Regions from separate parts of the Homo sapiens genome. Here region 1 is linked to region 2. The links come from fine-mapping of genetic effects on gene expression. A gene starts in region 2. The other region holds a variant in brackets. All regions are shown on one strand. Distances are from middle to middle.

Region 1 (11,385 bases), 44 kb after region 2:
GAGACCAGCCTGGCCAACATGGTGAAACCCCATCTCTACTAAAAATACAAAAATTAGCTGGTCATGGTGGCGGGCGCCTGTAATCCCAGCTACCTGGGAAGCTGAGGCAGGGGAATCGCTTGAACCCGGGAGGCAGAGGTTTCAGTGAGCCAAGATCATGCCACTGCACTCCAGTCTGGGCAACAGAGCAAGACTCCGTCTCAAAAAAAAAATAATTCTTGCACTTGCTGTACTTCAATACCACAAACTTATTCTGACATAGTTTTCTCATTAAGAAATGTTTAAGGAGAATGGTGTGAACCCGGGAGGCAGAGCTTGCAGTGAGTCAGGATCGCGCCACTGCACTCCAGCCTGGGCGACAGAGCGAGACTCCGTCTCAAAAAAAAACTAAAAATAAAAATCAATAATAAAAAAAAAGAAATGTTTAACTTCGAAGTCCAATATTCAAATTCTTCTTTTAAGGTGAGTCATTAGGCCAGGCGCGGCGGCTCACACCTGTAATCCCAGCACTTTGGGAGGCCCAGGCAGGCAGATCACTTGAGGTCAGGAGTTCTGGAGCAGCCTGCCAATATGGTGAAACCCTGTCTCTACTAAAAATACCAATGAAAAGTTAGCTGGGCATGGTGGTGCATGCCTGTAATCCTAGCTACTTGGGAGGCTGAGGTGGGAGGATTGCTTGAACCCAGGAGGCGGAGGTTGCAGTGAGCCAAGATTGCGCCACTGCACACTCCACCCTGGGCGACAGAGCAAGAATCTCCATCTCAAAAACAAACAAACGAAAAGATGAGTCACTTATTTTTATATCCAAAGCAAACAATTTAATTCGATAGCAGCATTACAAATATTACCAAGCAACTCTCACAGGCCTTAATATTAAACTCAATGGGGGCTTTTTTTTAGTGGGGGGAAGAATGGAGGGGAAGCAGCACACAAGGACAATAGAGAAAACCAGTAAAACTGTAGGCAAAATTTTATTGTGAACACATACAAATTGAAAGAATTGAAAGAAGGACCACAGCGTTCATCGAATTCTTAAAATCATTCATAAACCACAGCTCTATTATGGAGATATATAAGACAGTGTCCCATCCATTCTACACAATTTACAGAAAATAAAGGGGACACAGGAATATTTTAAATGTTTAACCACTTAAACCATGGAGATATAAAATCCAGACTACGAAAAACAATGAATAATAATCACCTCAGTTTCTTCAACAACTGAACTGAAAGAAAAAAGATGACAGCAAAAAAGAGAAACCTGTAAGTTATAAAAGACCTATGAGACTTATCAGTCAACAACAATGAAGGGACCGGACGCGGTGGCTCACGCCTGTAATCTTAGCACTTCAGGAGGCCGATGAGGGTGGATCACCTGATGTCAGGAGTTCAAGACCAGCATGGCCAACATAGCAAAACCCCATCTCTACTAAAACAAAATACAAAAATTAGCCGGGCATGGTGACGTGCGCCTGTAGTCCCAGCTAGTCGGTAGGCTGAGGCAGGAGAATAGCTTGAACTCAGAAGGCAGAGGTTGGAGTGAGCCAAGGTGGCAACACTGCACTCCAGCCTAGGTAACAGAGCAAGACTCCATCTCAAAGAAAATAAATAAAATAACAATGAAGAACCGTATTTGGATGCTGACTCAAACAAATTGTAAATGAAAAATTGATTTGAAACAACTAGAGAAATTTGAATGACTAAGTGATGATACTAACAAATTATTGTTGGCTGGGCGCGCTGGCTCACGCCTATAATCCCAGCACTTTGGGAGGCCGAGGCGGGTGGATCACCTGAGGTCAGGAGTTCGAGACCAACCTGATCAACAAGATGAAACTCCATCTCTACTAAAAACAAAAAAATTAGCCAGGTGTGTTGGCAGGTGCCTGTAGTCCCAGCTACTTGGGAGGCTCAAACAGGAGAATTGCTTGATCCTGGGAGGCGGAGGTTGTGATGAGCCAAGATGGCGCCACTACACTCCAGCCTGGGTGACGGAGCAAGACTCCGTCTTAAAAAAAAAAAAAAAAGAAAGAAAGAAAAGAAAAGAAATTATTGTTAATTTTACTAGATAGGGTAATGGTATAGTGACTCTTTTTTTTTTTTTTTTTTGAGATGAGTCTCACTCTGTTGCCCAGGCTGGAGTGCAGTGGCACAATCTCGGCTCACTGCAACCTCCGCCTCCTGGGTTCAAGCGATTCTTCTGCCTCAGCCTCCCGAGTAGCTGGGACTACAGGCACGCACCACCATGCCCGGCTAATTTTTTTTGTATTTTTAGTAGAGACGGGGGTTTCACCATATTGGCCAGGCTGGTCTCGAACTCCTGACCTCATGATCCGCCCACTTTGGCCTCCCAAAGTGCTGGGATTACAGGCGTGAGACACCGTGCCCGGCCAGTGACTCTTTTAAAAGAATCCACATTGAAATATTTATAGAGATATGAAAAAATTGTAAATAATTCCAAAATGAGCTATTTCAAACAAGTTATTAACTTTCCTGACACTCAAAATGTTTAAATAAGTTTTGACAATTACTTCAGTTGTACGGTTATCTTTAAGTATCATAATTCTCTAATCATAAGCTAGAAATTTTTCAGGAATACAACATACCTGGAGAGCTTGTTCCTTTTTGATGCCTTCTTCAATATCAATAGGTTCTTTAATTATTGCTTCAGGAGACTCAGCAGCAACATCTTCAATGTTGACACCACCATGTGAACTTCCTATTAATACAGGACCCTGGCAAGGGAAGTAAACAACCAAAACTCTAGATTTATTTTAGACTCATCAATGAAACTTTAAAACCTACCCGTGCATAATATCAGATGTAAGCATCTATTACTCTCTACCCACATTTTAAAATTTTCTTGAGAATTTATCCTCACATCTCCAGCACAGTGCCCTCTTATAAATATTCAATTAAAGCAATGGATAAAAAAGTAAAAAAAGAAGAAAATAATGGCTTGCCTGCAAGGAAAATAGATTTAAAATATACACAAAAACTTATACCACAATAGCAACAACTTGGAACCAACCCAAATGCCCATCAATGATACACTGGATAAAGAAAATGCGGCACATATACCATGGAATACTATGCAGCCATAAAAAAAGAATGTGTTCATGTCCTTTGCAGGGACATGGATGAAGCTGGAAACTATCATTCTCAACAAACTAACACAGGAACAGAAAACCAAACATCACATGTTCTCACTCGTAAGTGGGAACTGAACAATGAGAACACATGGACACAGGGAGGGGAACATCACATACCAGGGCCTGTCAGGGGGCTGGGGCAAGGGGAGGGATAGCATTAGGAGAAATACTTAATGTAGATGACAGGTTGATGGGTGCAGCAAACCACCATGGCACATGTACAACTATGTAACAAACCTGCACTTTCTGCACATGTATCCCAGAACTTAAAGTATAATTAAAAAAAAAAAGAAAAAAAACTTAACACCAAATATGTAAACATATGTATGTGAAATATAACCTATGCATTTTTCATAAAAACTGAGGGGACATTAAAAGTATTGCTTAAAGCATAAACACTAGAAAATCCTGAAAACAGATATTTGAAAGAAAAAGCCTAAGAAAAGGGAAAGTCTAAGCTCTAGCCCTACTGCAAGACAATAAAAAAGAAAGCTGGCCAGGCACAGTGGCTCACACCTGTAATCACAGCACTTCGGGACGCCAAGGCAGAAGGACTACTTGAGTTCAGGAGTCAAGACCAGCCTGGGCAACATAGTAAGACTCCATTTCTACAAAAAATACAAATAAATTAGCCAGGCATGGTGGCATGCCCCTTTAGTCCCAGCTACACAGCAGGCTGAAATGGGACGATGGCTTGAGACTGAGAGATCAAGGCTGCAGTCAGCTGTGATCACACCATGGCACTCCAGCATGGGGACAGAGAAAGACCCTGTCTCAAAAAAAAAGTAAAATACAATAAATAAAAGAGAGAGCTAACTAGTTTGAAAGAATAGCTCTGGCTATTGTCATGAACAATATGAGAAGGTAAGGTATCAATACTAACAATTATTAACATTTAAGGCCTTGAAAATCAATCAAGAAAAAATCATAAATTATCTAATAGATCTACTAATTTATGCATTAAACTAGAAATAATGTTAACATGAAAAAAAGAGAAATAGTAAAACTGCATTTAAAGATTGTTTACTGACAGGAAACTACTGATCTGTAGTGGGTAATGTAGTGTATGTGTACATGTAGTGTTACGTATGAAAAAAATGATACAAAGCCCTAGGTCGTTTTCTCAATTGTATTATTTTTTAACATAAAGTGCGTTTCAAGTGCTCCATATTGACAGAAACAATAAAAGAGTGGGAAATAAAACATTAAAAGACTTTTGTTATTTTAAATGCAACTATTTTCCAAATAAAATTTTTTTACAATGAACATACTACTCTTACATCCAGAAAAAAAAACAGGCATGACAACTTTTTTTTTTAATCAAAAGACTAATTCCACTTTTCTTTCTTTCTTTTCTTTTTTTTTTTTTTATCTGGAGTGTCGTTCTGTCACCCAGGCTGGAGTGAAATGATGCGATCTCAGCTCACTGCAACCTCCGCCCCCCAGGTTCAAGGGATTCTCCTCTCTCAGCCTCCCAAGTAGTTGGGATTACACGCATGCACCACCATGCCCAGCTAATTTTTGTATTTTTAGTAGAGACAGGGTTTTACCATCTTGGCCAAGCTGGTCTCGAACTCCTGACCTTAGGTGATTCACCTCCCAAAGTGCTGGGATTATAGGCATGACCCACCATGCCCAGCCTAATTCCACTTTTCTATCCTAGCACTTAGTGTTTTAGTAACATACTCATTTAAAGTATAAATTAAAGGAATAGGATTGCATTCATTACTGTTTAGAGAACGAAACAGTCCTTCAAATACTTAAAATAAGGCAATAACAAAAATTAAAAAGAAGAATCTATCACTTTTTTAAGAGTGTTAAACTTTTATTTAGGAAAAAAATGATTTTGTACCATGTATTCGATTTCTGTATACATTTGTAACAAGGAATTCGGATGACTTTTGTCCCCAGGGTCTTGGAAGTAACTTCTAAACCCTCCAACCACATCTGATAGTTGATGCGACCAAGGAGCCGCATGGTGGGCCCCTAGACAGTTTACACTAAGGAGATGACTCAGGTGGGCAATGGCCATGCCAGAAAGATTGACAATGTGATTAGAGGTTTGGGGCTTTCAGTCAAATTGTATCAACCCACTCTGCATAGAAGAAATGGGCTAAGTCAACTGCACAGACAATGATTCAATCAGTGATACCCAGGCTGGGTGTGGTGGCTCACATCTGTAATCCTAGCACTTTGGGAAGCCAACGCAGGAGGACTGCTTGAGTCTGGGAGTTCGAGACCAGCCTGGGCAACATAGTGAGAACCTGTCTCTACAAAAATTTAAAATTAAAAAAAAATTTTTGTTTAATGCCTACACCATAGAACCCCAATGAAAACTCTGGACACCAAGGTCAGCAAGATGACAAAATAGGAAGCCCAAGACCTTGCTCCCTGACAAAAACACTGACTTTAGCAACAATATATGATCCAAAAACCTTTTATGACAATGACAGTAACCAATTAGGAAGTCACAGTACCCCAGGTAAGCTCAAAGCCAAGAACATCTGCAATGAAATCAGTAAGAAAAGCCATTTCATTTTATCCACATCAGCATCCTTCCCCCCACCACTCCAAACTAACATAGTTTGGGATTAAGAAGCTTCTCCATT[G/A]GGAGAGAAAGAGAAGAGTAGAACACATGTTCAACATTCCAGCTTCTTGGAGGGCTGTCCAAGGGACTGTTTCCTGTCTCAACTGATATGGGTGCTGATGGGGAACCAGCATACTCTGGATGCCTGTGGGGCATCGAGAACAAAGGAGAGTACACAGGCTCATGGCAGTACCAGAAAATGTGTAACATCCCAGAGGGAAGTTGACACAGCTTGCTACAACTAAGAAAACACACCCAGCTCCTGATTTTTTAACAGGTTGAGTACTCCTCATCTGAAATGCTTAGGACCAGAAGATTTTGGATTTCTTTGAATTTTGAAATATTTGCATTATACTTACCATTGGAGAATCCCAAATCTAAAAATCTGAATTCCAAAATGCTCCAATGAGCATTTCCTTTAAGTGTCATGTCAGTGCTCCAAAAGCTTAGGATTTTATAGCATTTTGGATTTCAGAATTTCAGATTTGGGATGCTCAACCTATATTTATACCACAAGAAACTAGAAAAAGAATAACTAAACCCAAAGTTGGCAAAAGGAAGAAAATCATAAAGATTAGAGCAGAAATAAAAGAAACAAGGAACAGAAAAAAAAAAAATCAACAAAACTGCATATTGGCTCATTGAAAAAGTGAATAAAATTGACAACCCTTTAACTATAAAAAAATAGAAAAGACTGAAATAACAAAAATCAGAAGTGAAAGGAGACATTACAGCTGTCACAGAAAGAGTCTGAGACTGCTATGAAAAATTATGTATCAACAAATTGAATAACCTAGAAGACATTGATAACTTGCTAGAAACAATCTTCAAAATCATAAAGAAATAAAAAATATGAACAGCTCTATAACTAGTAATGATACTGAATCAGTAATCAAAAACTTCTAAGCAACAGGAAGCCCGGGACCAAATGGCTTCACTGGAAAATTCTATCAAACATTTAAAGAACTGAACCAATCTTTCCCAAGCTCTTTTCAAAAAATTGAAAAGGACGGAAAATTTCCATACTCACTCTATGAAGCCAGCATTACCATGATACCAAAATCAGAAGGTATTAAAAGAAAACTACAAGCTAATAGCTCTGAAAAAATAATGATGAAAAAAAAACTCAAAAAATACTAGCAAACTGAATTCAACAACACATTAAAGGGACTTTACATCATGATCAAGTGGGACTTAACTCCTAGAATACAAGGATGGTTCAACATACAAAAATTCAGTGTAATACATGCTATTAACAGAATGAAGGACAAAAACCACAATAATCTCAATTGATACATAAAAGGCATTTAACAAAATTGAATACCCTTTCACGATAAAAATACTCAACAAAGACTGAAGGAAACAACCTCAATATAATAAAGGCCATATAAGAAAACTCATAGCCAACATCATACACAATAATGAGAAACTGAAAATCAATGTGCAAAAATCATAAGCATTCCTATACACAAATAATAGACAAACAAGAGTCAAATCATGAGTGAACTCCCATTCACAATTGCTACAAAGAGGATAAAATACCTAGAAATACAACTTACAAGAGATGTGAAGAACCTCTTCAAAGAGAACTATAAACCACTGCTCAAGAAAATAAGAAAGAACACAAAGGGAAAAACATTCCATTCCATGCTCATAGATAGGAAGAATCAATATCATGAAAATGGCCATACTGCCCAAAATAATTTATAGATTCAATGGTATCCCATCAAGCTACCAATGACTTTCTTCACAGAATTAGAAAAAACTACTGTAAATTTCATATGGTACCAAAAAAGAGCCCATAAAGCCAAGACACTCCTAAGCAAACAGAACAAAGCTGGAGGCATCACGCTACCTGACTTCAAGCTATACTACAAGGCTACAGTAAACAAAACAGGATGGCACTGGTACCAAAACAGATATATAGACCAGTGGAACAGAACAGAGGCCTCAGAAATAACGCCACACATCTACAACCATCTGATCTTTGACAAACCTGACAAAAACAAGCAATAAGAAAGGATTCCCTATTTAATAAATGGTGTTGGGAAAACTGGCTAGCCATATGCAGAAAACTGAAACTGGATCCCTTCCTAACACTTTATACAAAAATTAACTCAAGATGGATTAAAGACTTAAATGTAAGACCTAAAACCATAAAAACCCTAGAAGAAAACCTAGGCAATACCATTCAGGACATAGGCATAGGCAAGGACTTCATGATGACGAAAACACCAAAAGCAATGGCAGCAAAAGACAAAATTGACAAATGAGATCTAATTAAACTAAAGAGCTTCTGGACAGCAAAAGAAACTATCAGCAGAGTGAACAGGCAACCTACAGAATGGGAGAAAATTTTTGCAATCTATACATCTGACAAAAGGCTAATATCCAGAATCTACAAGGAACTTAAACAAATTTACAAGAAAAAAACAACCCCATCAAAAAGTGGGAGAAGGATATGAACAGATACTTTTCAAAAGAAGACATTTATGCAGTCAAAAAACATACGAAAAAAAGCTTATCATCACTGGTCATTAGAGAAATGCAAATCAAAACCACAATGTGATAGCATCTCATGCCAGTTAGAATGGTGATCATTAAAAAGTCAGGAAACAACAGATGCTGGAGAGAATGTGGAGAAACAGGAACACTTTTACACTTTTGGTGGGAGTGTAAATTAGTTCCACCATTGTGGAGGACAGTGTGGTGATTCCTCAAGGATCTAGAACCAGAAATACCATTTGACCCAGCAATCCCATTACTGAGTATATACCCAAAGATTATAAATCAGTATGTTTATTGTGGCATGATTCACAATAGCAAAGACTTGGAATCAACCCAAATGCCCATCAGTGATAGACGGGATAAAGAAAATGTGGCACATATACACCATGGAATACTATGCAGCCATAAAAAGGATGAGTTCATATCCTTTGCAGGGACATGGATGAAGCTGGAAACCATCATTCTCAGCAAGCTAACACAGAAACAGAAAACCAAACACCGCATGTTCTCATCATAAGTGGGAGTTGAACAATGAGAACACATGGACACAGGGAGTGGAACATCACACACCGGGGCCTGTCGGGGGGTGGGGGGCTAGGGCAGAGATAGCATCAGGAGAAATACCTAATGTAGATGACAGGTTGATGGGTGCAGCAAACCACCATGGCACGTGTATACCTATGTAACAAACCTGCACATTCTGCACATGTATCCCAGAACTTGAGTATAATAATAATAAAAATAAAAAAGAAAACTTACAGCCAACATCATACACAAAAATGAGAAGCTGAAAGCTTTTCCTCTAACATCAGAAACAAAGCAAGGATGCCCACTCTTGCCGCTTCTGTTCAACACAGCACTAGATGTCCTAGACACAGAAAACAGGTAAGAAAAATAAAAAGCATCCAAAGAGAAAAGGAAAGGTAAAATTCTGTGTTTGCAGATGAGATGTTGTCATATGTAGAAATCCCTAAAGATTCTGCACACACACAAAAAAAACTCTTAGAATAAATCAGTTCAGCAAAGTTGCAGAATACAAAATCAACAAACAAAAATAAGTTGCCTTTTAATACAGTAACAGTGAACAATGTGAAAAGGAAATTATGGAAATAATTCCAGTTAAAATCAAAGAGAATAAAATACTTAAGGATAGCCTAATCGAGGAGGCATAAGACTTATGAACCAAAAACTACAAAACACTGCTGAAGGGAATTAAAGAAGACACAAACAGGCAGGGCGCGGTGGCTCACGCCTGTAATCCCAGCACTTTGGGAGGCTGAGGCGGGCAGATCATGAGGTCAGGAGATCGAGACCATCCTGGCTAACACGGTGAAACTCCATCTCCACTAAAAATACAAAAATTAGCTGGGCGTGGTGGCGGGAGCCTGTAGTTCCAGCTACTCGGGAGTCTGAGGCAGGAGAATGGTGTGAACCCGGGAAATGCAGGTTGCAGTGAGCTGAGATCATACCACTGCACTCCAGCCTGGGTGACAGAGTGAGACTCCATCTCAAAAAAAAATAAAAAATAAAATAAAAATAAAAAGACACAAACAAATGGAAAGACATCTTGTGATCACAGATTGGAAGACTTAATATTGTTAAACTGTGCATACTACCCTAAGCAATCTACAGATTCAATGTAATCTCTATCAAAATCCCAATGGCTTTTTTTTATAAAAATAGAAAAATACACTAAAATGCATACATAATCTCAAAGGACCCAGAACAGTCAAAACAATCTCGAGAAAAAAAAAGAAACTAGAGGCCTCACACTTCTTTTAAAATATATTACAAGGTTACAGTTATCAAAACAGCATGATAATGCATAAAAAAACAGACATATAGACCAATGGAATAGAACAGAAAACCCAGAAATAATCCCTAAGGTATATGATTAAATGATCTTCAACAATGGTGGGAAAGCTACACAAGAGGGCAAAAAGAACAGTCTCTTCAACAAATGGTGCTAGAAAAATTGGATATCCACATGCAAAAGAATGAAGTTAGACCCTTACCAATACTACTATATGCAAAAATTTACTCAAAATAGATTAAAGACCTAAACATAAAACCTGAAACTATAAAACTCATAGAAGAAAACAGGGAGAAAAAAGTTTATGACATTGGATTTAGCAATGATTTCTTAAACATGATACCAAAGGCACAGGCAGAAAAAAAGCAAAAATTGACAAATGGAACTCTATCAAACTTAAAAACTTCACAGCAAAGGAAATAATCAACAAAGTAAAAAGGCAATCTACAAAATGAGAGAAAATATTTGCAATCCATATATCTAGTTAAAAGCTGAAATTCGGAATATGTAAGATCTTCTACAACTCAATAACCAAAAAAGTAAAAAATAAAAAACCCAAACAAAAAAATTTAAAGATGGGCAAAGGACTTAAATAGACATTTCTCCAAAGCAGATCTGCAAATGGCCTGTAAGCATATGAAAAGATACTCAGTATCACTAATAACGGGGGAAATGCAAATAAAAACCACAGTGAAATATAATCTCACACCCTTTAGGATGGCCACTACCAAAAAAACAGAAAATGAATATTGGCGAGGATGCAGAAAAACTGGAAGCTTTGTCTGCTGTTAGTTGGAATATAAAATGGTACGGCTCAGCTAGGTGCAGTGGGCTCATGCCTGTATTCCCAGCACTTTGGGAGGCCAAAGCAGGCAGAACACCTGAAGTCAGGAGTTCAAGACCAGCTGGCCAACATAGTGAAACCCTGTCTCTACTAAAAATACAAAAACTAGCCGGGCATGGTGGTGCACGCCTGTAGTCCCAGCTACTCAGAAGGCTGAGGCAGAAGAATCACTTGAACCCAGGAGGCGGAGGTTGTGAGCCGAGATCGCACCACTGCACTCCAGCCTGGGCAACAGAACGAGACTCCGTCTCAAAAAAATACAAAAATAAAAAAATTAGCAGGGTGTGGTGGTGGGTGCCTGTAATTCCAGCTACTCAGGAGGCTGAGGGAGAAGAATCACTTGATCCCGGGAGACTGGGGTTGCAGTGAGCCGAGACTGCACTACTGCACTCCAGCCTGGGAGACATAGCGAGACTCTGTCTCAAAAAAATAATTAATTAAATAAAACGGTACAGCTGCTATGGAAAACATTATAGAAGCT
Region 2 (11,385 bases):
AAAAAATTACTTCCATATAGTACATGCTTCCTTCATGAAATCCTAACCTCAGTTCTCTATATTGTAAACTTGGATAAACCCACAGTTTTTTGGACAGCTAACATACAAGCATCACGAATTTTACTAAAAATTTGGGCCAACTCATTGTACATTTGCCCCCTGAAATGAAAAATACACTAGAATTAAAGCAGTATATTGCCATAACTGACCTTAAGGGTAAGGAGATTCTCCTATATTTATAGACTAAGACTGGAGACATGACTGGTAATCTCCAATAAGAGTGCTTTTAAAGATAATCTAATTTTAAGCTTTGAGGTAGCATAGGATGAACCCTATAAAATTCATTTTTCTTTTCTCAAAATAATGGAAGAGCCTTTTAAAACCTAATATCTCATCAATATTACCGCATTATAGAGCTAATGCAATCCTGATAGCTTGATCAAAAAGACAAAATACAATAGAAAAATTAAGGTATTATATGAAGGAGAGAAGACATTGAAGATAATTTAAGGCCTTGAAGTGAATTAATCAGTTTAATTTAAAGCTGAAGAATAAATCATAAATTATTCACCTGAAATGCAAGCAGTATGCTTTTTCAGCTTCTGTTCTGTGGATAAAACAATAGAAGAGAATATTCTTATCCTTAAGAAATACTCAAAGCATTTAGGGAGAAAGAGCCATGATATATGTAGCTTACTCTCAATTGGTTCAAAAAACATCATGAAGAAAGAAAGAGAAAGAGAGAGCAAAAGATTAAGCAAATGGAGTGAAATGTTAAGAATAGGCAAATTTGGGTGAAGGATACATGACTATTCCTTGTACTATTTTTATTTTAGCAACTTCTAGTAAGTTTGGAATTATTTCCAAATAAATTTTTAAGTCTTTTAATACTAATATTCCAGGCCAGATTAAACAAAAGATTCAACCAATGAAATACTAACCAATAATTCCTTTGTGCTGTCAAATTGAAGACGTACAGTTTGTTGGGCCACTTGTGGTTTTCACAGATCATTTCCCATGTATTTGGCAGCTAGTGGATTTATTTGCCACCATTAGATGTAGAAAATCTAAAGTACCTTTGGAAGACAAGGTTGAAGCTCAGAAGAAATGATTAAGACTCCAAGTCCCACAACAAGTGGTTACAAAACAAATTTAAATTCACCTTACAGGTGTGAAGTGTAGAAGTAAGTGTCCTTTCTCTATTATGCTGTCATTCAAGAATAACTACTCATAAAGATCCTTTGAGCCCTGGGCCCTACTGGCTGCCTGGAAACTCAGAAATGAATGGAGGAACACCACTACCTTCATATTTCATCACCTAGTCCTCCTCCCTGCTTCTATCCTAATGTTCCATTTCTAGGCTAGTGTCCCTGGGCACATGGTACCTGCTCACAAGCCACAGTATCTCACCTCTCCACGTGTGCTCAGTCCCTCCAGCCTACCTGTCCCCACCTGGTAGATTCCTACTCCTGCTTCAAGATCTGGCTTTGAAAGCCTTCCCTCTCTCCACACCATCTCTTCTCCCTCAGCACCCTGAATATACCATTGTGAAAGCTACAGTCTAGTAAAAGGGCAGCGTGTTTTTCCTGTATTTCCCTCGAAGCTCCTTAAAGGGCAGAAATCATGCCTCAGTCATCTTTGCACTCCCTATTTCCAACTAAGTGTCTATTTTGTTTAACCAAATGGAACTGCAAGTCTTTTGCTGTAGCCACCAAAAGTCCTTTTGTTGAAAGAAGAATATAAATAAAACTGAAATATGAAATAGATTGAGTTACGAGGTAAGCAGTAGCTCTACCTCTCAGAGAAAGAAACGATCCCTCCTGCAGACGCCCTTTTGCTGGATCTTAGGTGTGTCACCATAGAAAATAAGGACAGAACCTTTAACCCATAAAGAACTATTTGGTTTAAGTTGAGGAAAATAAATCTCTGATGCTGTCTTTCAGGGTGATAGAGATTTCCATATGAGAAAAAGCAGCTAATTCCTGGGCAGTTAATAATAGCACTATCTTGTCTAAAAACGGCAAAAGCAGTATCCTGGCCAATGCCGACCTAAGGTGACAGCTTATAGTAAAATGAAAGCAAATTGTAAGCACAAATCTTACTCTGCATAAGTTATTTACTACCCAGATATGTATTCTTTGCTGATTAAAGGTACAGCATCAGTGAACTACTGGAGTTATTTTTAGCCAGAGACAGAAGAGATTTTTTAATCCTTGAAAATTAAGGGGCAAGATGTTCCTTACACTATGCTGCCTCTAGGGAGTTCATGTCTCATTCCTTCTCATAAGGTCTGATATTCTTTCTACTCCCATGCAACATTAACAGCTTTTCTGGAATATGATTATAACAGCACTATCTTAGTCCATTTGTGTCGCTATAAAGGAATACCTGAGACTGGGTGATTTATAAAGAAAAGAGGTTTATTTGGCTCATGGTTTTGCAGGCTATACAAGAAGCATGGAGCCAGCATCTGCTTTTGGTGAGGGCCTCAGACTGCTTCCACTCATGCTGGAAGGTGAATAGGGGCTGCATATGCAGAAAGCACATGGCAAGAATGAAGCCAAAAGAGAGAAGGGAGGTGCCAGACATTTTTTAACAACAAGCTCTCAGGCTCTCACAGGAACTTATAGAGTGGGAACTCATTCATTACCTCAAGGATAGTACCAAGTCATTCATGAGAGATTCCTCCAAGACCCAAATACTTCCCACGAGGCCCCACCTCCAACCCTGAAGATCAAATTTCAACTTGAGGTTTAGAGGGTCAGATATCCAAGCTATAGCAGCACCATCCCATTATACATTTGGTATCTATGTCCTAAACCAAAACTCCCTCCAGCTTTACTGTAGTTTACTAAGTTGTATATTATACTTTATGTGGGATTTTCTCACTGCCCCCTAACATGGAGCATAGAATCTACTGCTGGAGCAATTTCCTCCAAATACTTTTCAATTTGGTGGCTTAATGGGTATGCTTATTGCACCTCCTCTGCAGACTCAGAGGTACTTGGAGTCTGGCCACTGCTCGTGCCAATGACAAAGAATGCTTTAGCTCTGAAGTCAGAGCTCAGACCATGAGAGTAAAACCTATGTATTAGCAGAAGAGAAAAGCAAAAAGAAAAACAAAGAATAGAAAAGAAAGGCAGGGAAATGAAGGGAAGCAGGGAAGAGGAATAAGTGAAACGAATCCCAGGAGTGGTAAGGCACAGTGGGCGCCACCAGGAACTGCCCTCCGATCTAGTTCTCCTAACATGCAGAAAAGGATCCTTTGTAGATTGAACTCACTATTCTTCCAGCAACAACTATCTGATGTCAGAAATTCTAAAGCCTAACATCACTTCCACTTTAAGACCAGCAAGGTATGGAGGAGGTGGGTAGTAATAGAGTATGAAGAACATGAGGCTGGGCACTGTGGCTTACACCTGTAATCCCAGCATTTCGGGATGCTGAGACAGGAGGATGGCTTGAACTCAGGAGTTCTAGACCAGCCTGGGCAATATAGCAAGATCCTGTCTCTACAAAAAAATACAAAAAAAAAAAAAAAGAAAGAAAGAAACAAAAAACATAAAATTTGAAGGCAGAAGGCCTGGTTCAGGTCATAGGCTATGACACACAGGGTAAGCCACTTCTTAACTTTTTCATCTCAGCGTCCTTATCTGTTAAATGGTGATGATAACACCTGGCACACAGGATTGTTGTGAGCATCAAATGACTGCACATGAAAGGGTAAGTTTCTATTTCAACCGTGATGGAGAGATGGTTAACATGCCTGCACTTCATAGATTCTGAGAACTAAAGGACAAATACACCCAACAAGCAAAATTCGAGGTGCAATTGCTTTATTAGATGATATCCAAGTACTCGTGTATCTACACATATTTCTCTATATCAGCTAACAAAATGGGGAGCCTTAAAAGAAACACAAGTATTTTTTTCAAATATTTGAAGGGTTCCCAGAAAGAAGGATTAGCTATTTCCAAACTGGTTCAAATATAGAACCTTAGTCAGACTAGCAGGTAAAAGCTACAGGGAAAAGGATTTGGGATCAGTATAATAAAGAGCTTTCCAATATTTCAAACTGTTTAAAAATGAGACAACTCCCCATAAGGAGATGAGTTCTCTGATAGTGAAGATGTTTAAGTTGAAAGGAATGACCGACTGTCAGGATATGTTAAACGTTGGGTGAGGTGCAAGTTGCATGAGGGGAGGGGGTGTGTGTCTGTTTTGTTCACTGCTATTACCCCGTGCCTAGAACAGTGCCTAGCATGTGGAAGACTCCCAGATACAATAAATAAATGAGCAAACTGGGCATGGTGGTGCATGCCTGTAGTCCCAGCTACTTAAGAGGCTGAGACAGGGGCATTGCTTGAGCCCAGAGGTTTGAGTCTAGCCTGGGCAACATAGGGAGACCCTGAGAAAGAAGAAAGCAAAGCAAAGCTAAAAAAAAAAAGAAAGAAAAGGAAGGAAAGAAAGGAAGGAAAGAGAGAAAAATAGAGAGAAAGAGAAAAAGAGAAAAGAGAGAAAGGAAGGAAGGAAGAAAGGGAAGGAAGGAAGGAAGGGAGGGAGGGAAGGGAAGGGAAGGGAAGAAATGAGCATATCCTGTGATCACTTTGAATCTAAGCCTATAATTTTATGATAGATGTTCAACAATTCTTAGTTCTGTTGAGTCTGTGTCCGCTCAGCAGCTCAGCTGGGCATCTCAAAGGTCAAATCATTTAAATATTTTCTCTGAGTCAAATTCACAAACACAAGAGTTGATTCTACATCTGCAGACAAACAGGTACCAGAAAGCCCTACCTCACTGTTACACACTAAGAGTGTGGAATGAACAGCAGGTGAAATAGCCAAACCTACACAAATCAACCAACAAAATCAAATGGGAGTTGAGGAGAGGCGTAGGTGTTACTCAGGTATAGTGCCAAGTGGATCTGAGGACAAGAATGTTCTCCTATGCATCTCTGTATCCTTAATACTAAGCACAGTGCCTGGCACAAAATAGATGCTCAAAAACCATTTGCTGAATTCAACTGAACTGAAATTTATGTCTGACAATTATTAACTATTTGCCTTTTCATTTCGTATGAGGTTCACGATTCATTGTTATATATTTATTCATACATTGACTTGGATTTAATTGCTTATATCTCCCCCACTACATTACAAACACCATAAGGGACCATGTCTCCTATTGATCATTGTATACCATGTAGCCCTGGTACATTGTGTGGCACATAGGAGGTGTGCACTTAATATTTGTTGAATGAAGTGAATAAATACTGGAAGTGGATCTCTAAAATAACTGTGTACTTGAAAGAATTCTAGAATCATAGAATCTTTCTAATCCTTTTAGTTATTATTTGTTTATTATCAAGTCTTCCCATTTAGACTGAACCATTTAAGAAATGAAGCAATTTAATCTAGATAAAATAATGGTAATGCAATAGTAATATCAGAATATTTCTTCTAAATTGATGGTCAAAAATGCTCATGAGAGTCCCCAGAAACACTCAGCTTCAAGTTTTGTTTTTTCTTTTTTTTTGAGACGGAGTCTTGCTCTGTTACCCAGGCTGGAGTGCAGTGGCGCTATCTGGGCTCACTGCAAGCTCCGCCTGCCGGGTTCACGGCATTCTCCTGCCTCAGCCTCCCGAGTAGCTGGGACTACAGGCGCCTGCCACCACGCCCAGCTAATTCTTTGTATTTTTAGTAGAGACGGGGTTTCACTGTGTTAGCCAGGATGGTCTCGATCTCCTGACCTCATGATCCACCCGCTTCAGCCTCCCAAAGTGCTGGGATTACAGGCGTGAGACACTGCGCCCGGCCTCAGCTTCGAGTTTTTTAGGGAAACATTTTACTGGCCAACACTCCCATTTTCAAACAGACTTCACAGTCAATCCAGAGGCTGCAGATAACTAACTTAATCCTCTTCTTTGGGCTATATAACTGGGTTTGTCTTTTTTTTTTTTTTTTTGGCACTTCTACTGAAGGGCATACTAAGCAGAGAAAAGAAATCCAGTCAAACCATAAGCATGAATTTTGGCAGCTTTTATAACAGCCAAGCCTAGTGAACAGTTAGTATTTGGTGACTCCAATGTTGTCTTTCTGGACCTTTTCCCACCCAGTCATGGAGATATCCCTCCACCCAAAGCTGCTCCATTCATACCTAAGGCTCAAATGGCTGTGAAGACAGTGTTTGTTACCGGTCTGCAATAAGATAACTTACATCAGAATATAAATGAAAGCACTGAAGCTTCCTGCATTGGAAAAGTCTTGCTACCTTGCTACCAAGATAAAAATATATTTCAGATGAACTAAATAGTGTGCTTCATGACATAATTGACTTAAATCCTGGCAAAAGATCCTTACCTGGTTGCAAGTCAGGAACAAAGAGCTTCAGAGACTGGCGCTTTGAGCAGCATTCTGCTAAGCCATAAAAAGATATCTCCTCCTGCATATCTGCATTTTAAAGGACAATAAGAAGCTTCAAACTGAAGGAATCATTCCCTAAGCACAGGTTCTCACAAACATAGGGATATTATGTCTCGAACAGGTGGACATGGTATTTGGGGTTTAGAAGGGAACCACTGAAATGAGGCATCCTGCCATAACCAGATCTAGTACATAACACATGCATAAAACGGTATCAATTCCTTTTCTCCTACATCCTGACCCAATCCAATTTTTTTTCAAAGGAACACATGCATTAGAATCACCTAAGAAATTTATTAAACATGCCTGTTGCCAGGCCAGCTGAATTAGAATAGCTGGGTATGGGCCTAGGAATCTGTATGCTTAACAGGCATCCAAAAGATTTATGTACACTGAAATCTGAGAACCACTGCATTAGATCAGCTGAGGCTACAGAAAAGATCTTTGCAACTGCAAAGGAAACAAAAATAAAAGTCCAAAGTGAGCACCAAATAGGAACTTTTGTCCCTGCCACAGATATTTCAGAAAGCAAGTGAATACAGCATAGCCGATCAACTGATGCAAGCACCCCCTACACCACAAATAGGCTTTGCCCTATAGCATTTGCCAGTTACTGTTTAAGCAAACCATTGTTTAACTGCCATTAACCTCATAGGATTATTGACACTGGGTATCCATTTCTCAAAGAGATGTCAGATATTTGACTAGGTTAAATTGAGAAACACTGGATTCTTTGGCTTGGTTTCGTTTTGTTAATGGAACTTCCTCACCTCAGAAACAGCATGTAAGTCAATTAGCCTTTTTCTAACTAAGGAAACAATGGACTTTATTCACATGGTATTTCACTCACAAGTCCCCTAAATTACTGGCTTGCCAAACCCTGCTCAAGTAAGCAGGCTGAGTGACAATAACAAAAGCTAAATCATTTGGCATTTCAGTGACAATGTATAACAGTGTATAAATTTTTTAAATCCCCTTACTGTTCTGCCTTCTCAGCAATGACACATCTACAAAATGGGCACTAGGCCAAGTACCCTACCACAAAACAAAATCGTTGCCTGTTGTGGTATTAATGTTCAGTGAAGCAACTGGTCTCAGTACACAGTCAAGTAAACAGGCATCAAAGGGTAGAACCTAACTGTTAACCCAAAGTATCTGAGACGGGTCTCAGTCAATTTAGTAAGTTTTTCTTTTGTCTTTTTGGCCAAGATTAAGGAGGCACCCGTGACACAGCCTCAGGGGGCCCTGACGACATGTGCCCAAGGTGGCTGGGGTACAGCTTGCTTTTATACATTTTAGGGAGACATGAGACATTAGTCAACATGTGTAAGATGTACATTGGTTTGGCCAGGTAAGGCGGGACAACTCAATGTGGGGGCTTCCAGGTTAGAAGTAGATAAAAGACATTAGGGTGCATTCTTTTGAGTCCTGATGAGCCTTCCACTCAATACACAACTTAGTCTGACTCAGTGAATCTGCATTTTTACATAAACAATAGGGCAAAGGAAGCAATCAGATATGCATTTGTCTCAGGTGAGTCTCAGAGGGATGACTTTGAGTTCTGTCTGTCCTTTGTCCACAGTGAATTTCCTTGTGGACGAGGATCTGTGGCAAATTGCGAGGGAGGTATGTAGCTATGTTATTTAGGAATAAAATGGGAGGCAGGTTTGCCTGACATAGCTCCCAGTTTGATTTTTCCCTTGGCTTAGTGATTTATTTTCCTTTCACATAACCACAGAGGAGAATGCCATGGAGAGGGGCAATAACAGGCACTGAACATCAGGAATGCTGGCAGGCGAGTCAGATATGGCTCCAAGTCTGTTCAGTGGTCTCCACAAGGCTTCCACAAAGGCCAAAGGTTTCATGCTGACGTATGATAACAAACACAAGAGAACCAACAGCCTGGGCAAATTAAATCTACGGTTTTTTATGAGCTAGTCCATAATGAAAAGTCTCTCACAGACTGAAAAAATGTTCCATATCAATCGAATCACAATATTTAAGAAAGCCATGACCAATTTGCTTAAGACTGCTCCTTCAGCTGCCCCTCTTCAGCATCCCTCCCAGAGGAAGAAAAAGCATTAGACAAAAAGATTCAGATCAACACTGCCCCCCTTCAAGAGAGTCATGGCACACCAGACACAAAGCAGTGAATCACCTGTCATTTGTTTCCAGTTCTTCCTCATCAGCCCACAGTCATACATCTGGCATCAAATAGTATAGCTTTTACTTTTTTCCTAGTAGAATCAGTGTCATTCAATTGCAAGTTGAAAGTTAGGAAAATGGAAAGTTCAATTTTTCTACAAATAAGCAAGGATAACTTTGACAGGCGCTGCAACACTCTCTGTCATGGTTTCAACAGATCTCTTTCCTACCTCCTACTTTAAGTAAAAGTTAAATAAAGAGTCTCCCTGTATGTGCCAGTTTCATATACACGCAAGAACATACAGGAAGTTAGTATATGATAAAGATGACATTTTAAAATTGGTGGGAAATAGATCAAATAGGGAAAAGTAAATCCCTTAAGGGATAAGTAAATGGTGTTTGGGAAACAGATTAGGCATTTGAGAGGGGAAATTTGCATTCATAACTCAAGTTCAGACTTTGTAACAAAACAATTAAGCCTTTCAAAACATATCATGAAAACTAGAAACCACAAAGACTAATACATTTCATTATATTTAAAATGACATATGACATATATATAAAATACATAATAGGCAAAAATGGTTAATCTCAAATATACAAAAAGTTATTAATACTAGGAAGAATGAACAGTCAATAGAAAAACAGTCAAAGAACATGAAAAGGGCTGGGCGCGGTGGCTCACGCCTGTAATCCCAGCACTTTGGGAGGCTGAGGCAGGCGGATCACGAGGTCAGGTGATCGAGACCATCCTGGCTAACACGGTGAAACCCTGTCTCTACTAAAAATACAAAAAATTAGCGGGGCGGGTGCCTGTAGTCCCAGCTACTCAGGAGGCTGAGGCAGGAGAATGGCGTGAACCCAGGAGGCGGAGCTTGCAGTGAGCCGAGATCGCACCACTGCACTCCAGCCTGGGCGACAGAGCGAGACTCCGTCGCAAAAAAAAAAAAAAAAAAAAAAAGAACATGAAAAGGAAGTCACACGCTGACACACACAAACACACACACACATACACTTCCACAAATGCCCAGTCAACAGATGAAAGCTCAATCAACATTAAACAGGACATGGTTTTTGCCCATTGGAATTAGCAATACAATGTTATCAAGTATGGAAATATTATTGTGCATTATGAATGGAAGAGTAACCAAAAGAGACTTTCTGGAAAGCGGTTCATGCTTTTACACAGCTATTCCACTTACAGGTTTTTACCCTAAGGAGAAATTACCCATGTGCTGAAAGACATATGCACCAGAGTGTTCACCTATTATTTATAATGTTAAAGACATATAAACCAAATGTCAATAATTGCAAGGCTAGGTTAAATAAACCATGATATACACATTCTCTTGTATGTGCAGCTATTAAAAATTATGTAGTCCTATATTTGATGCCATGGAAAGATCCTTATTTGAAGAAATGCAGATTATAGAACATTATGTTTATGATCCTATTTATATAAAAGTGTATTCATATCTATCCACATATGCTCATATTTAGAGACGACCAGAAGATTGTTTACAAAACTGTTAACATTAGTTATTTCTGGGTTCTGGCACTGCAGGTGATCTTTACTTGTCTGCACTTTCTTGTATCATTCCAGTTTTGAAGGGGTTTATTTTTTCAATGAGTATGTGTCATTTTTACTAAAACAAAGATATTTTTTCTAAAACGATGCTGGTTTCATCAAACAAGGATATCAAAAACAAATAAAAAGATGCTTCTCTGCTTTAAGAACAAATCATAGGAATAATCATAAAGTAGTTGAGGCTTTTCTCCAGTTTCCTTCATATTACATGCTCAGCTGGTCACTCTGGAATTGTCACTCTCAACTGATGAACTGCAGGCTCTCAACTGGTGGTCAATCAACTCCTATTGAAGACATTAATAGATGTTAGTGTTTAGTTGGTGATATGGTTTGACTGTGTTCCCACAATTCTCATGTGTTGTGGGAGGAACCTGGTGGGAGGTAATTGAATCACGGAGGTGGGTCTTTCCTGTGCTGTTCTCGTGACAGTGAATAAGTCTTGTGGGAGCTGATGGTTTTTTGGTTTTTGCTTTTTGGGTTTCTTTTTTTTTTTTTTTTTTTTGAGATGCAGTCTCGCTCTGTCACCAGGATGGAGTGCAATGGCACAATCTCGGTTCAGTGCAACTTCCACCTCCCGGGTTCAAGCAATTCTCCTACCTCAGCCTCTGGAGTAGCTGGGATTACAGGCACACACCACCATGCCTGGCTAATTTTTGTATTTTTTTTTCAGTAGAGACAGGGTTTCACCATGTTGGCCAGGCTGGTCTTGAGCTCCTGACAATCAGGTGATCTGCCTGCATTGGCCTCCCAAAGTGCTAGGATTACAGCTCGTGAGCCACTGGTTTTATAAGGGGGAGTTTCCCTGCACAAGCTCTCGCTTTGCTTGCTGCCATCCATGTAAGACATGACTTGCTCCTTCTTGCCTTCCACCATGATTGAGGTCTCCCCAGCCATGTGGAACTGTGAGTCCATTAAAACTCTTTCCTCTATAAATTACCCAGTCTCAGGTATGTCTTTATTAGCAGTGTGAAAATGGACTAATATAATTGGCAACAAATGAACCAGGAAGCTTAGGCCACTCCTGGCCCTTTCAATACTTCTCCCAACTTGCTAAACTTAGTGATTTCTGTGTTACTGTATTAGTGCTGACTAGACTCTAGGGCACCCAACAGTCATGACTTCTTTAGTTAATGGCAATTGTTTCGCAGATTTACATAGCTATGAGTACCATAATGTTAATCACAACTACTCAATGCTGAGTCTCTTATCCCTAGACATTTGTTTATAGC

What was found. PIP is the estimated chance that this variant, and not a neighbour inherited with it, causes the effect.
Region 1: its variant is the best candidate, but not a certain one, in a credible set for the expression of LINC00562 in whole blood (TOPMed, PIP 0.76).

Annotation. Positions count from the first base shown.
Region 1 is chr13:47,970,658-47,982,042 of GRCh38, forward strand. It overlaps SUCLA2 (succinate-CoA ligase ADP-forming subunit beta), which reads right to left. Exons shown (of 11, transcript NM_003850.3): 5 at 2,607-2,735. Among named protein-coding and RNA genes, the nearest start is that of SUCLA2, 25 kb to the right of the region's middle. The variant G/A (reference allele first, on the strand shown) is at 5,762.
Region 2 is chr13:47,926,334-47,937,718 of GRCh38, forward strand. It overlaps LINC00562 (long intergenic non-protein coding RNA 562), which reads right to left and starts at 6,289. Exons shown (of 1, transcript NR_047492.1): 1 at 3,820-6,289.